Linked DNA regions of Homo sapiens: region 1 is linked to region 2. The links come from fine-mapping of genetic effects on gene expression. A gene starts in region 2. The other region holds a variant in brackets. All regions are shown on one strand. Distances are from middle to middle.

Region 1 (8,335 bases), 52 kb before region 2:
AATATTTTCTGCCCTACCTTAAGAAATTTTTAATAAGCAAGAATAGTTAAATTTGCATAAGTTAAGTGTATGAATGAGGTAACTCCATTGTAGGGATCAGCTACTTCCCTAAGAGCAGATTCTGACGGCAATTGGGGCAGAAAGAAAGGAAAAAGAAGAGCAAGAGGAGGAGGAAGAAGAAATGAAGAGGAAAAGAAGAAGGAAGGAGAAAAAAGGAAGGAGGAGGAGGAGGAGAAGAAAAGAGAAGAAGAAAAGAAGGGAGAAGGGAGAAGAAGGAAAAGAAAAAGAAGAAGGAGGAGGAGGAGAAAAGAAGAAAGAGAAAGAAAGAAAAAGAGAAAGAAAGAAGAAGGAGGGAGAAGGAGAACAAGAAGGAGGAAGAAAGGAGGGAGGAAAAGGAGAAGGAGGGAGGAGAAGGAGAAGGAAGGAGGAGAAGGAGAAAGAAAGAAGAGGAGAAGGAAGGAGGAGGAGGAGAAGAAAGAAGAAGAAGAAAGAAGAGGCTCTGTGCCTGAGGGCAAGGAAGGGATACTATAGAGGGTAGGGAAGACCATGACCAAAGATAAATTTTGCCTACTTCACAAATTTGTATGGAATATAAATTGTATATACTGCATAAATCATTTAAGTCATAATAGCTTATTAATCATACCATCTTACATTCTCAAACATGATTAACTGAGAATTTTCTGTAATTTCCCTTCACTTTTACAAACAGTAACTATTAATGTCAAAGTATCATCATTGTATTTCACGATTTTCAGTTCAAGATGAGGTCCAATTTAAGACAACTTGGAGGCAAGAACATCAAATCTGCAAATCACAGAGCTGTCTGGTGACTTTTCTTACTGAGTACTGCCAGCAAGCACTGGCTATCTTTATCTTGATAAGCACTACTAAAACATCTCAAGTGGAGGGGTCATAGTCCCATCACTGGGATTAAAAACCAAAATATATAGATGATTTACATTTGTAGATTCTAAACTTGCTAACCCAAATGGCGAAATGAGTTACTAGAAACGAGAACCAGTATTTTCATAAACTACAAAGTTTCTAGTAAAAGTTATTTTAGCTACCAATTCAGTTTTTTAAGAACCTTGTTGATCTTTCTATTGTCTTAACTAGAGTCTTGTTCATATAGAAAATAAGTTAGTGAAGTGAATTATTGTGGCTTCAACTCTGAAAAGGAAGCAGGATGGGAGAGAGGAGAAAGCACAGTCAAGGGGGATTATTTCATGGCCACAGACTGCATCACAGCTGTGGCTGGGATTTCACAAATGTGTATGTACCAACAGTCAAATGAAGGACTGTGAGAGAATGTGTATGGCTGAGCTCACTTAGGAACCACGACTGGGAAAACAATTACCTGGAAAGAGATGGCCTACTGATACCAAGTACAGTATTATCTTTAGCGTAAAAACTTCAGTCATGAGATAAGAGATTATTATTTGAATTGCTAGTCTTCAACTACAGAACTAATAAAAGTTAAGCAACAACTACCCCCACCACAACCCCCAACTCTCCCTTCTTTCACAAGAGAAATAATCTAGTTTGGCAAGTCTCCTCTCCTTTATATGACATTCCTTTTTATTATATTTAAATACACCTTTTTGAACAAATTATGCAGAAAAGTATTACGACTGAGGATTTTTTAGGGGGAGTAATAATAAATTACTGGGGTTGAAGAAGGATTAAAAGGTTTCATTTATTGTTTTGGACTTCTGATTTCTCTGTCAATTTAGTTGTTAAATGTGGGAAAGTTACTAAGAATTTATCATTTTAGTTGTGCCATTCTCATTCCTTGTGTACATACTTGTCCAAGGACTCTTAGGGTAACGCCAGCAAATTACATCAGGTGTCCCACTACAATGATTAAATTAAAACAGGAATTCTTGGTGTCGCTTCCCTGAATTTAACTTCTTGAAAACAAATGAACTGTTAAACATATATGTGACAAACTAGCATAATCTTTTTTTTTTTTTTTGAGACAGTCTCGCTCTGTCGCCCAGGCTGGAGTGCAGTGGCGCAATCTCATCTCACTGCAAGCTCTGCCTCCTGGGTTCAAGCGATTCTCCCGCCTCAGCCTCCTGAGTAGCTGGAACTACAGGTGCACGCGACCACGCCCAGCTAATTTTTTGTATTTTTAGTAGAGACGGGGTTTCACCGTGTTAGCCAGGATGGTCTCAATCTCCTGACCTCGTGATCTGCCCGCCTCAGCCTCCCAAAGTGCTGGGATTACAGGCGTGAGCCACCGCACCTGGCCCAAACTAGCATAAATTTTTAAAATAACATACCCTCAATTTACAGAGTGTGCATCATTTCAAATTGCAGGCCAGGCACAGTGGCTCATGCCCATAATCCCAGCACTTTGGGAAGCTGAGGAAGGAGATTAGCATGAGCCCAGGAGTTTGAGATCAGCCTGGGCAACATAGTGGGACCCTGTTTCTATTAAAAAAAAAAAAAACAAACCAAAACTAGCCAGGCATTGTGGCATGCACCTATAGTCCCAGCTACTTGGGGGGCTTAGGCAGGAGGATTGTTTGAACACAGAAGGTTAAGGCTGCAGTGAGTTGTGATTGTGCCAGTCTGGGTGGCAGAGTGAGACTCTGTCTCAAAAACTAAATAAATAATAATTTAAAAAAATAAAATAAAATTGCAACATAAAAATAGCAGATGACCTTTTGCTATTTCTCATCTCCAACAACTCAGTAAATCTACCAAACATACTTGTACAAGTACTTACGCCACTAACAAGTAACTATTAAGCCAAAGGAGGGATTTTGAGGACAATGAAAAAGCGGTAGAAGTTATTTACCATAATTGTTGTTTTACTACATTTTTTGAAAAAGCAGGAATTTTTATATTAATACCAAATAAAGTAGACTTCAGAGCAAAGAAAATTACCAGAGACAAGGAGGGACATTATATATCATGATAAAAAGTTAAACCCACCAAGAATATATAGCAATACCCAAATGTACATCCACCAAACAGAGCTGTAAAATATATGAAGGAAAACCTGGTAGTACGGAAAGGAGAAATAAACAAATCCATAATTATAGCAGGAGACTTCAACATTCCTCTCTCAACAATTGCTAGAACAACTAGACAGAAAATCAGCAAAAATGTAGAGGAACTCAACAATATTATAAACCAACAGGATGTAATCAACATTTATAAAATACTCTACCTAATAAGAAAATACATAGCCTTTTAGCATGCTCAGGGAATATATACCAAAACAGAATACATCATGGCCATAAAATAAATTTGAATATATTTAAAAGAATGAAAATCATGCAAAGTATGTGTTCTCTGATCATAACGAAATCACACTAGAAGTAAATAATAGAAAGATAATAGGAAAATGGAAGCCTGGACACATTTGCAAACTAAACACCACACTCAGAAATAATTCATGAGTGAAAGAGGAGGTATCGGGGAGATTTAAAAAATATATTGAATAGGATGAAAATGAAAATACAACATATCAAAATTTGTGGGACACAGCTGAAGCAGTGCTGAGAGGGAAATTTATAACACTACATATATACATTAAAAAATAAAAAATTCAAATAAATGATCTAAAATTCTATGTCAAGAGCCTAGGGAAAGAAGAGCAGTATAAACTGAGAATCAAGCAGACAGAAGAAAATAATAAAGAACAAACATCAATGAATTTGAAAACAGAAAAACAAAAGAGTAAAAGAAAATCAGTGAAACAAACTGCTGGTTCTTTGAAAAGAAAAAAAAATTGAAAAACCTCTAGCAAGACTGACACGGGAATTAAGAGAAGACATAAATTACCAATATCTATTAGGAATGAAACAGAGGATTATTGCGAAAAAAAAAAAACAAACCTGCAAAGACCAAAAGATAATAATGGAATACTGTGAACATTCTATACTCATACATTTGACAAGTTAGACAAAATGGGTCAATTCCCACCATAACTCCATAACTCACCTACTATGAAATAGATCACCTGAATAGCCCTATTGCTATTAAGAAAATTGAATTTGTGATTTTTAAAAACTCCCCCAAAATAAATTTCCAAATCCAGTTTATTTCACTGGATAACTCCACCAAACATTTAAAGAATTAACTCCAATTTTACATAATATTTTCCAGAAAACAAGGAGGGAAAAATTTTCAATTATTTTTATGAAGCTAGTATTAACCTAATACCAAAACCAGACAAAGACAATACAAAAAAAGAAAAATACAGCCTCATGAAAATGGAGGCAAAAATCCTAAACAAAATATTAGCAAACAGAATTCCACAATGTATAAAAAGCATTATATATCAAGATTTAGGGGGATTTATTCCAGGAATGCATGGCTGGTTCAACATCTGAAAATCAATGCAATCTACCATTTTAACAGGCTAAGGAAGAAAAACCATATGTTCATATTAATTGATGCAGAAAAACATTTGAGTAAATTTAACACTCATTTATGATTTTTAAAAACTTTCAGAAAAATAAGAACAGAGTGGGAGTTACCTCAGCTTAAAAACTTCTACAAAAACCTACAGCTGTTTTTATACTTAACGGTGAAAGATGGAATGCTTTCCTCTTAAGATTGGGAAGAAGGAAAGAATATTTACTCTCACCACTCTTACACAACATAGTCCTGGAAGTTCTAGTCAGGGCAATAAGGCAAGAAAAGTAAATAAAAGCCATACAGATAAAAAACAACAACAACAACAAAAACAACAAACGGAATAAATAACAACTGTCCCTACTTATAGATGACACAATTATGTACATAGAAAATCCCAAGGAATTTATAAAAAACAACGAA[T/C]TCCTAGAACTAATAAGGGAGTTGAGCAGGTTGCAGGATACAAAGTTAATATACAAGAGTGAATTGCTTTTCTATAGACCATCAGTGAACAACTGGAATTTGAAATTAAAAGAATTACAATAAAAAAGAAAATAGGCATAAATCCAACAAAATATGTATAGACTCTATACACCAAAAACTACAAAACTCTGATCAAAGAAATCAAAAATCCAAATAAGTGGAGAAATATTCAATGCTCATAGATTGGAAGACTCAATACTAGTAAGGTGTCCATTTTTCCCATCTGTAAGTTCAACATTCCAAATATAATCTTGGCAAGCTATTTTGTAAATGTCAACAAACTGATTCAAAATTTTATATGGAAAGGCAAAAGACCTAGAACAGTCATACTAACTGTTTTCATGACTTATTATAAAGCTATCATAATTAATACAGCATGATATTGGTGAAAGGACAGATACACATATCAATGGAACAGAATAGAGAGCCCAGAAATAGACTGATAAAAATATGGTCAACTTATTGTTAACAAAGAAGTGGCCAGGTATGGTGGCTCACACCTGTAATCCCAGCACTTTGGGAGGCCAAGGCAAGAGGATTGCTTGAGCCCAGGAGTTCAAGACCAGCCGAAGCAACACAGGGAGACTCCACTACTACAAATAAAAAAAAAATTATCCAGGCATAGTGGCACCTGCCGGTGATCCCAGCTACTTGGGAGGCTAAGACAGGAGGGCTGTCTGAGCCAAGGATACCAGGGCAGTGAGCCGTGATCACACCACCACACTCCAGCCTAGATGACACAGTGAGAACTTGCCTCAAAAAAAAAAAAAAAAAAAAAAAAAAAAAAAAAAAAAAGGAGTACAGGCAATTCAATGGAGAAAGGAAGAAAGGATAGTCTTTCCACCAAGTAATGATGAAATAATAGGACATCCATACGCAAAGAAAAGAAAGAAAACAAAATGATTCTAGACATAAACCTCATACCCTTAACAAAAAGTAACTCAAAATGGATCACAGACCTAAATTTAATATATAAGACTAAAAAACATCTAGAAGAAAACATAAGAGAATATCTACATCTAGATCACCCTGAATGATCTCACGCTTTCATCACTGACCAAACCTGTAATTACATCTCAGTCCTTTCTCCTGAATCTGAGGCCTATTTCTCTATCTACCTAATATATTTAATCTTGATGTCACACAGACATCTCGAATCAAAAAATAAAAAATAAAAAGCTGAACTCAGCCGGGCGCAGTGGCTCACGCCTGTAATCCCAGCACTTTGGGAGGTCGAGGAGGGCAGATCACCTGAGGTCAGGAGTTTGAGACCAGCCTGACCAACATGAAGAAACCCCATCTCTACTAAAAATACAAAATTAGCTGAGCGTGGTGGCGCATGCCTGTAATCTCAGCTACTTGGGCAGCTGAGGCAAGAGAATCGGTTGAACCCAGGAGGTAGAGGTTGCGGTGAGCTGAGATTGCGCCACTGCACTCCATCCTGGGCAACAAGAGCGAGACTCCATTTCAAAAAAAAAAAAGCTGAACTCATCACCTTCCCCAAACCCATTGCACTACGCTACCACCTCTTATATTCCCTATCTCCACGAAGGCCTTCATTATACCTCCAGTTGTCCAGTGCAGACACCTGCAAGTCTGTGCCTAGCTAGGCTCCTCTGACACCCTTACTAACCTCTTGTCAAGTTCTGAATATTCTACATCCTAGAAACTGTAAAATCTATCCCCTATCCTCAACCTCACTCCCAACCCCATCAAAACAGTCCCTCACCATGTCTCTCCCAGATTAGAACGATAGCCTCCTTTCTGTCTCAATGCCTTTGCCACCTTCTAGCCTATTCTCTACACTGGAGAAGTCTTTCCAAAATGCAGATCTGATGATGATATAATCCTTTATAGGTTCCCCCTAACTTTCAAAATAAAATCCAGATTCTTCACATGGCATATAATTCCATTTCAGATTGCATCTCTGCCTATGTCTCCAATGATACTGAGTTCAACTTACTTACAGTTCTTCAAACACAGTAAATCTCATGGTTCTGTACTTTTGCACATGCTAATCTCTCTGACCAGAGCACCTTATCTCTCACTTCTTCAACTGGCCTCTCCTTAGTCAGGCTTCAAGAGCCAGCTGAGGCATTACTCTTCTACAGCGCTTACCCTGGCTACTCCCTTTCTGTATCCCCTCATCCCCAACCATCCAAAGCCTTTGCAGAATTCTCTTGCATGGCACTTACTAGTATATACCATAACTGCCTGTTTATCTTGCCCACCTGTCTGTGAGCTCCTTGAGAATGAGACCTTTGCCTTATCTGTTTCTCCAGTGTCTGGCATGGAATGTTACACAGAGTAGATAATACATGTTTCTGAAATAAATAAATGTGAGGCACGATATGGAAGAACTCTGATTGAAAATAAGAATTTGATTTTGAACCCATATGGGCTGAAAAAAGCGTATTCTGTCTTTTGCTCTAAATGAAAAACCAATGCCTCAACTTTCAATAATTCATATACTTTGGAACATAAGTAAAAAATATTATATTTACAAGCTTAAAAAAATCTAATGCAATAAGATAATGTAGCTCTAGCCCTCTCCCTCTCCCTCTCCCCACGGTCTCCCTCTCATGCGGAGCCGAAGCTGGACTGTACTGCTGCCATCTCGGCTCACTGCAACCTCCCTGCCTGATTCTCCTGCCTCAGCCTGCCGAGTGCCTGCGATTGCAGGCACGCGCCGCCACGCCTGACTGGTTTTGGTGGAGACGGGGTTTCGCTGTGTTGGCCGGGCCGGTCTCCAGCCCCTAACCGCGAGTGATCCGCCAGCCTTGGCCTCCCGAGGTGCCGGGATTGCAGACGGAGTCTCGTTCACTCAGTGCTCAATGGTGCCCAGGCTGGAGTGCAGTGGCATGATCTCGGCTCACTACAACCTACACCTCCCAGCCGCCTGCCTTGGCCTCCCAAAGTGCCGAGATTGCAGCCTCTGCCCGGCCGCCACCCCGTCTGGGAAGTGAGGAGTGTCTCTGCCTGGCCACCCATCGTCTGGGATGTGAGGAGCCCCTCTGCCTGGCTGCCCAGTCTGGAAAGTGAGGAGCGTCTGCGCCCGGCCGCCATCCCATCTAGGAAGTGAGGAGCGCCTCTTCCCAGCCGCCATCACATCTAGGAAGTGAGGAGCGTCTCTGCCCGGCCGCCCATCGTCTGAGATGTGGGGAGCGCCTCTGCCCCGCCGCCCCATCTGGGTTGTGAGGAGTGCCTCTGCCCGGCCGAGACCCCGTCTGGGAGGTGAGGAGCGTCTCTGCCCGGCCGCCCTGTCTGAGAAGTGAGGAGACCCTCTGCCTGGCAACCACCCCGTATGAGAAGTGAGGAGCCCCTCCGTCCGGCAGCTGCCCCGTCTGAGAAGTGAGGAGCCTCTCCGCCCGGCAGCCACCCCATCTGGGAAGTGAGGAGCGTCTCCACCCGGCAGCCACCCCGTCCGGGAGGGAGGTGGGGGGGGTCAGCCCCCTGCCCGGCCAGCCGCCCCATC
Region 2 (8,335 bases):
GGTCTTCACTTTGAGTACACTGAGGAGGAGGATCAAGAGGAGGGGTTGGTCTTGCTATCTCAGGGGTGATAGAGGTGGAATAGGCGGAAGGAGAGGCAGAAGAGGCAGGCATACTCAAGTGTAACTTTTGTTTGTTTGTTTGTTTGAAACAGGGTTTTGCTCTGTCGCCAGAGGGCTGGAGGACAATGAGACAATCACAGCTCACTGCAACCTCGAACTCTTGGGCTCAAGCGATCCTCCTGCCTTAGCCTCCTGAATAGCTGGTACTACAGGTGTGCTCCACTGCACCCAGCTAATTTTTTTTTCTTGACTTTTTGTAGAGATGGGTCTTGCTATGTTGTTCAGGCTGGTCTCCAACTCCTGACCTCAGGAGATCTTTCCACCTCAGCCTTCCAAAGTGCTGGGATTACAGGTGTGAGCCACCCCGCCCAACTTAGTATAACTTCTATTGAAAAAATAATCTTCCTATAAGTGGACTCATGCAGTTCAAACCTATGCTGTTCAAGGGTCAATTGTAATTCTATATTATTACTCTACCTTTTCTATGTTTAGATACACAAATACTTACCATTGCATTACAATTGCCAAAGCGTATTCAGTACAGTGACACGCTGTACGGGTTTGTAGCCTAGAAACAACAGGCTATATAACACATAGCCTAGGTGTGTAGTATCTAGGTTTGTGTGATTTCACCCTATGATGTTCAAACAAATATGATACCACCTAACGATGCATTTCTCAGAGTGTATCACCATCATTAAGTGACACATGACAGTATCGCAGCCAGGTCTGCCAAACTCCAGAGTATGTCCTCTTAAGCTATTCACGCCACCCTCAAACTGTCTGCCCCAGCCATATTGCATTACTTTCAGCTCCTAGAACTCATCTGCTCTCCTTGGCATGAGGCCTTCATACATACCGTTCCCTATGTCCGGAATGTCCCCTCACAAATCTCACCTTTACATGGGTAATATTTATTCATTTATCATGTCTCTGCTTAAATGTCATTGCCTCAGGAAAGCTTTCCCTTACTATCTAAAATTAAATTTTATATTTGTTTACTTCTTTATGGTCTGTTTCCCTTTGGTATGATGTCAAAATTGTTACCACTGGTCCTCAGTTCTCAGAATGACATTCAGCAGGAGTTCAATAAACATTTGTTGCATAACTGCAAGCATAAATGAATGATGCTGGGGTGGAAACTCCCTAAACTGAAAACTTCATCTATTCAGACTACTGATGAAAAACAGAAAGAAAGTATAAATTTGTTCATCCACTGGATATTTATTTAGTAGCTTCCAGGTCCCAGCCAGTACTCTTAAGAACTCATAGCCTTCCTATGGGAGACAGACACAAAAGCATGTGCTTATAACACAATATAAGTAAATTGCCTTTTATAATTGTACAATAGATGCAGAGATGGAAAAAAAGAGTATAAGTCTATAGGGAACCTTCCCAGGAAATTCCTGAGTCCTTTTGCAGGATGAAAGAGTCTTGAAATATATATTGCATAGTCTATGTATTTCACTTATGAAAGGGAGAGGAGCATCTACTATATATACCAGAGTACTTTACATCTGATTTAATTCCCACAAGAGCTCTGTGTTGTTATTCCCATTTTACAGATGTGGAAATCCAAGCTAAGAAAGGTCAAGGAATTTGCCCAAGGTTACAGGCAAGGACATTAGTAAAGGAGTGGAATTTGAGCCCAACTCTGACTCCAGTACCCACTTATTTATCATTATATTGAAATCCTTTGATACTATGCTCCCCAGAGCCTGCTTACTTTTATTTTCAATATAACTCTTAACACGATTGGTTATCTGGTTTCCCATTCTAATATGAATTAAGCAGCAAAATGAAAGATCAGGAAGAGACCAAAGTCAAGTATCCTGACGGCAAAGGAAAGAACAGAAAAACTATAAAAATTACACACAAAAATACAAAAACTAATGGATCATATAGTCAGTCCTCCACCCTTTGCTGCACAACAATAGTTGATATGCATAATGATGACCCCATTATGGACAAAAATGGTTGTTACAGTCACTACAGTCTAGAAGATAGAGAAATAACTTTTTGTGTTTCAAAGGGTAAACTTCAGTTACCTAGTATATTAATTCCTCTCGGGTAACTCTGAATTGTAACAATTGTTTCCAAAGTGTTAGTGAGAAGAAATATCCCAAGATCTTAAATAGAGTCTTCATTTTGTGGATATTATTTTTCTGTTGCTTTAAACTAAATTCAAGCCAGTATATAAAAACTGTCACTTTTAACTTACATAGTTACCCAAGTACATTTTAAATTTTAAAAATCTCTCATACAGGACTTTGGACAACACACGTGGATTGAGAAATGTAAAGATTGACAAGCATATATAAGGTGTTGCTGAATATTGTCAATATCTAAAAACTTAAAAAAAAGTATTCTAAGACACCTTGTAATAAAACAGGATAAATTATGAACGAAATGGAGGAAAAACTATAATATTTTTAACCTGCTGCACTCGTATCTTAAATAGCTACACATGTGAAAAAGAAACAATTCAGGCAAACACAGAGAAAGCTAGTTGAGCAATTTGCCATAAAAGTGTTTCTATCAAATACCCCACCTGGGTCCACCTTTTCAACATGAAGATATTAGCTTCTTTTAAGATAGGTTTTTATTATTTTATATAATTCTCTTCTTGAAAAAAGAGAGGTTGCATTTAGAGAACACATCCTGGTTTGTTTTGTTTTTAAAAATAAGAGAAAATTGTTCCACCAATTATCTTGAACAGGCTGACTAGGAAACATTTAATATCCTTTATCATTTTAGAGGCTTTTAAATGTGAGCCTTTACACTCAGAACACTGTGACAATGTGAAAAAAAAACACTGGCTACATTTTCCAACAACATGTAAAAAGAAATATAAGGAAAAACAAGTATTTACTTGGAATTAACTGTAGTTTTCATATATTCTTCCAGGAGCAAAGCAGTTTCTGCCTAAAACTCTAGAAAAACACTACTTGTTTACTTACAGAACACTCTAAAGATGTAAACTCATAATAAAAGTTTACATAACAACCTAATAGAAACAAACACAACGTGAATAACGGCAAGTAAAATTTAACTGTAGTAGAGACATAGTTGTATTTAAAATGCTCTTCCTTACCTGGATGCTCTTCAGAATAAACTCACTTTTCTCTCTCACATCTTTGAAGGGACACCTCTTAGAAAGCATAAGCAGATGAGCAAGTAGCTTATTCAACCCATCCGAAGACTCGGTATTTGAAAGCCCGTCTGATGGACGATGAGGTGTTTCTTTCACCGAACGAAGATACTCGGTTTTCCTCAAAATGGTTTGCCTAATGTTTTCCAATGCTGTCTCCCTAGTAGTTGAATCTCTGCTGCAGAGTCCATCCCATCTCACTTCATTCTCTCCTTCAGCCATGACAATAGTTTTTCCTTTGCGGTCTTCAGTTACCTTTCAGCATGCCCCAAAAAAATTGCTTTGTATTTTTAAAATGAAAAATGTAAAAATAAAATCAGAGAAATCAAATCGTCATGAAAACACACATCTGGGTGACATTTGGAACCACTGGTGCCTTCAGCCGATCTACAAGCTAGGTCACCCTCTCACCCTCTCCTTGTACACGAAAGGGCAGTCTTCTTTCTGGAAAAACAAAGTTTGAAAGTTGCAACCTTGCAGCGCTGGCTTTGGTGGGCAGAGAATTTCGGGGAAGCGTTCTCCTCCGTCTCGCGGGGTCAGTGGATATCCTCACGTTGTGGAGCTGTCAAATCCGTGCTCTGCCCCAAAAGGCTGTTAACAGCTGAACGCCCTCCAGCCATTCGGGGCTTTTTTGTCTGTGCAGCCACCGGGTTCTCTCCGGCGTTCCCACCCCGCCCCTTCTCCGACACCAGTCCCCGCCCTCCGCAGCTCCTCCCAGCGCCTCAGCAGCCGGCCGGCGCCGGCAGGGAAGGCTCGCCGAACCCTGGCCCACTGGCCGCAGCGGCCGGAGGCTTGGGCGCTGTCGGAGGGCGGCAGTCTCGGGCAGCCGTAGTCTCGGCGGGCGGCGGTGAAAAAAAGCGTCCCCCAGCCCCGCCAATTCGGCACCCCCGGGAAGACGCTACTTCTCCGATCCCTGAGCCCTCGCCCACCACCGCCGAGCCAGAGGGCACAGGGCGGCCCTGGCAATCCTCGAGCGCCAGGCTGGGCCGCGGAGCTGGCGGGGCGGCGGGGCCCGAGGCGCAAAGCCCGCCCTTCGCCCAGCCCCATCGGTGGGGATCAGCCCAGAGGGCGGGAGCAGGGAGTGGAGACGGGGTCCTCACCCCCAGCCCCTCCCCTTTCTCCGCCCGGCACAAACCGGGAGCCGCCCCGGCCCCAGCGCCTTCTTCCCCGCCCAGGCAGACGCGACCCGCCGAGGCAAAGCCTTAGGAAAAAGCCCCGCCCTCTGGCAGGCTACCCTCCGGACCCCAAGTGCGCCGCGCGCGGCTGCCAGCCACTGCCGGCTGCTACGCATGCGTGACTGCGAACTGGGCCAAGCGCCCCCGGAGGCGCTAAGCTTGCGCCCTGAGGCGGTTTCCGTTCCCGGACGTTTGGACTCTGTCCTGGAGAAGGGGAAGGAAAAAGTAAGACGTAGAAGTACACTGAGACTTCGTCACACATAAAACAAGCACGACAAAGAAAGAGGGCGCGAAGGGACTCCTGGAAGAAATTGAGTCTACATTTAAGATCACCCTAAAAGTAGTGACGGCCTCTTCATTACTCCAAACCCCAGATTTAAGTCGGTAGGACGTCTTCGCGTTGACTTGTGGGGAATGTAGTTTCGATGCTGCCGGCGCGTTTTGTTTGCGACAGAAACTACAACCCCCAGGGGCCACCGCGACGTTGCCTGTGGGTGCCCGCGAACCAACGGTTAGCGGTGGCAGGGGCTGACTGAGAGCGTCTGCTTGGTAAGCACTGTAAGCTGGGTTGTCACCTTTCCTTGACAGGGTTTTTCCTTCCTCCATTTCCTCTGGGATTTTGGAGACAAAGCCATCTAGGGTGGCCTCCCTTAGTCCAAGGACTTTTTCCAGTGACTTGCGTGGGAAGGACTAGTCCAGCTGCCCAAGCGCGGGGTGTGGTGGGTGAGGCAAGGATTTGGGATCCTGATCCCAAGGGTCGCAGGGAGCGGCCTAAGTAAGGCCAAGAAGGAAGGATGCTGTGGAAACTGGAGCTTCGCGCTGCTGCCTCTGATTCCGCCCTTTTTTGTGGACACACGCGGGGTGGATTTGGGATCTCCGCGCATTTGCACCTTTGTTTGCCTTTGCTTAGGGATGTTCTGGGCTTTATTTGCTCAGTCAAATGAAATCCTAGGCAGGGCTTTGAAAGCAAGTTGTCAAATCCATCTCGTAAAAGAATCCCCAGTATTCCTAGATAGGAATTCTTGCAGGCTTTAAGGATACAGCAGGAAAAAGAAAGCAAAACCGTAAAAGTCTCCAAAACTTAGTCGACTTTTTCAAAAGATTCAGTCATTTGCTTAAAATTAGTTTGCTTTTAAAAAGTTATTATTTGAGAAAAGTCGAGGTTTGAACGGCCATCAGTGGACTGATAATCGGTGTAGATTTTAATTCTTTACATTGCAGAATTGCATTGCACTAAATTCTAAAAATTTCGTCTTGCTAGGCACTGAGTATACAACAATGAAAAAGACAGTCTTACTAGTTAGAGGAACTAGTTGTTAGACATACGGTTACAATAATACATGATATCACTGGGATGTCTAGAAGGAGATGACTTAGCCCAATCTTGGAAAGTCAGGGAAATCTTCATCCCAGGGGAAATGAAGACCAAAAGAACAGCATATGCTAAGGCCCAGAGTGAGAGATAGGGTACTTTCAGGAAACGTCAGTAAGCCAAATCATGCATACTTGGCGGTGTGGGGTGGGACGGGAAGGGTGCTTTTTGTGTATTGATGCACTTAGAAGCTACAAAGAGACAGGTATTGTGAATTCTTTACATCGTTTCTGTAAGTGAGCTATTTTTGAATAGATGCATAGTTCTGATGAATTGGTCTAATTTCAAAAGCCTTGTTACATTCTGACACTTCTAGTTTGAATCTGAATTTTAAAAAGGGAATAACTTATGAGTGTGATTGAAAAAGCAAAACAAAAACCATTCCGTTTTCATCTCCTTTTTGGGATCTTCATTCTCTATCCAGCCCATAAAGGGTCGGGTAGTTTCTTAAGGCTGGGTGCCTTTTTATGCCGTAGTTAAATATGATCTCATGTATACCCATGGCTTCACCAACACCTATGACTCTCAAATGAATAGCTCCATTCAGCTTCACCTCTCAGCTTTCACAATATCTCTTGGATATTTCTTCTTGGATATCTCAAAAGCATCTCAAACTCAACATACCTAAAACCAAATGCATAGTTATCTCTTATGAATCTAATTCTTTTTCAGTGTTCCTTATTTCAGCAAAGGACACTACTATCCATCTACTTGTGAAAATTTGAAAGCTAAACATTATTCTTTATTTCTTCTTGCCCTTCATACTTCTATGGCCAAATTATTATGAAGTTCTGCCAACCTTATCTCTCAAAATATCCTTCAAATATATTTTTCTCTCCACCTGTCTTCAAACTGCGATAATCTCTCAAGACCACTACAGTAGCAATTATTCACAATGACCCTCCTCCATTAGTTCTCCATTATATCTGCCAGAATGATTTTTTGAAACTGCAGATTTGATCAGATTTTCTCTTGGTTAAAACTATTCAGTGGTGTCCTACTACTGTTAAAGACAAAACTCCTTTATAAAGCCTGACATCATCTGGTACTCTTTCAGACTAACTTCATATATTGCCCTCCAGATCAGCCATACAGTCCATTTTTCAGTCATTGGTTCTCATATTCCATTTCACCCACGCGTTTACTCAACAAATCTCTGTTGAGTCCCTTTTATATAACAGGACATTGAAGATACAGCATTGACCACAATATATAAAAATTCCTACTGTCATAGAGCTTGCATTCTACTGAGGAGAGATAATAAATAAATATGTAAAACACTTAGTAAATGAAATGAAGACAAATGCAGTGGAGAATAAAACAACTGGGAAGGGGAATGGGGAGTGCCAGGATGTGAGGGGCAAGGTTCACTTTTAAATAAGGTTGTTAGAAAAGACATAATCCAGAAGGGGACAATTGAGATATGAAGTAGGGGAGGGAATAAACCATGTAGATGCCTGGGCAAATAACATTCTAATGAAGAGAATTAGTGCAAAGGCCTTGGGCAGAAGCCTGAGTGCGCATTTGAGAAATAGCAAGAAGGCTAGTGTGGCTGGAGCACAATGAGTACAAAGAGGAGAATAACATGAGGTCACAGAGAAAGGAAGTAATGGTAGGAGAACATGTAGGTGACTGAAAGGACTAACATTTTTAATTGGGTTGGGAAAGCATTGGAGAGTTTTGCGCAGATGAGGGCATGATCTGACTTTTAAAAAATGACTACTTTTCTCTCTCTCTCTTTCTCTCTCTCTCTCTCTCCCTCTGTCTCAACGGAGTTTTGCTCTTGTTGCCCAGGCTGGAGTGCAATAGCACAATCTTGGCTCACTGCAACCTCCACCTCCCAAGTTTAAGTGATTCTTCGTCCTCGGCCTCCCAAGTAGCTGGGATTACAGGCATGCACCACCATACCTGGCTAATTTTGTGTTTTTAGTAGAGACAGGGTTTCACCATGTTGGTCAGGCTGGTCTTGAATTCCTAACCTCAAGTGATCCACCCACCTCAGCCTTGCAAAGTGCTGGATTACAGGTGTGAGCCACCGTGCCCGGCCTCTTTCTTTTTTCCTGAGACAGAATCTGACTATGTCACCCAGGCTGGAGTATAGTCATAGCTCACTGCATCCTTGAACTCCTGGGCTCAAGTAATCCTCCCACCTCAGTCTCCCAGGTAGTTGGGACTACAGGCACGTGCCAACAAGCCCAGCTAATTTTGTATTTTTTCCTTTTTTTTTTTAACTGAAATTACATAACTGAGATAATTTTTGTCTTTTTGTAGAGACAGGATCTCACTGTGTTGCCCAGGCTGGTCTTGAACTCCTCAAGTGATTGCCTCAAGTGATCCTCCTGCCTCAGCCTCCCAAAGTGCTGAGATTAGAGGCATAACCCACTGCAACTGGCCTGAAGTGAATATTTCTTTTAAATTGTGTTGAGCATAGACCATAGGGAAGCAAGGGTGGAAGCAGAGAGACTGGTTAGGAAACTAAAGTAATAATCCAGGTGACAGAATCTGGATACATTTTGATAGTATAGCCAACAGACTTTGCTGACAGATTGTGTGAGAGTAAGAGTCAAAAATGGCTTC

Evidence for each region.
Region 1: its variant is fine-mapped to the expression of SESN1 in whole blood (INTERVAL, PIP 0.91).

The regions. Positions count from the first base shown.
Region 1 is chr6:109,038,695-109,047,029 of GRCh38, forward strand. The region is part of intron 1 of SESN1 (sestrin 1); the gene reads right to left. It also overlaps a transcript of ARMC2 not described here. Among named protein-coding and RNA genes, the nearest start is that of SESN1, 52 kb to the right of the region's middle. RefSeq lists a silencer at 6,772-7,066 and an enhancer at 7,154-7,721. The variant T/C (reference allele first, on the strand shown) is at 4,801.
Region 2 is chr6:109,090,641-109,098,975 of GRCh38, forward strand. It overlaps SESN1 (sestrin 1), which reads right to left and starts at 4,206. Exons shown (of 10, transcript NM_014454.3): 1 at 3,155-4,206. The coding sequence starts at 3,433. CEP57L1 (centrosomal protein 57 like 1) reads left to right here and starts at 4,867. Exons shown (of 11, transcript NM_001271852.3): 1 at 4,867-4,935. RefSeq lists enhancers at 3,574-3,723, 4,594-4,853 and a silencer at 3,834-4,533.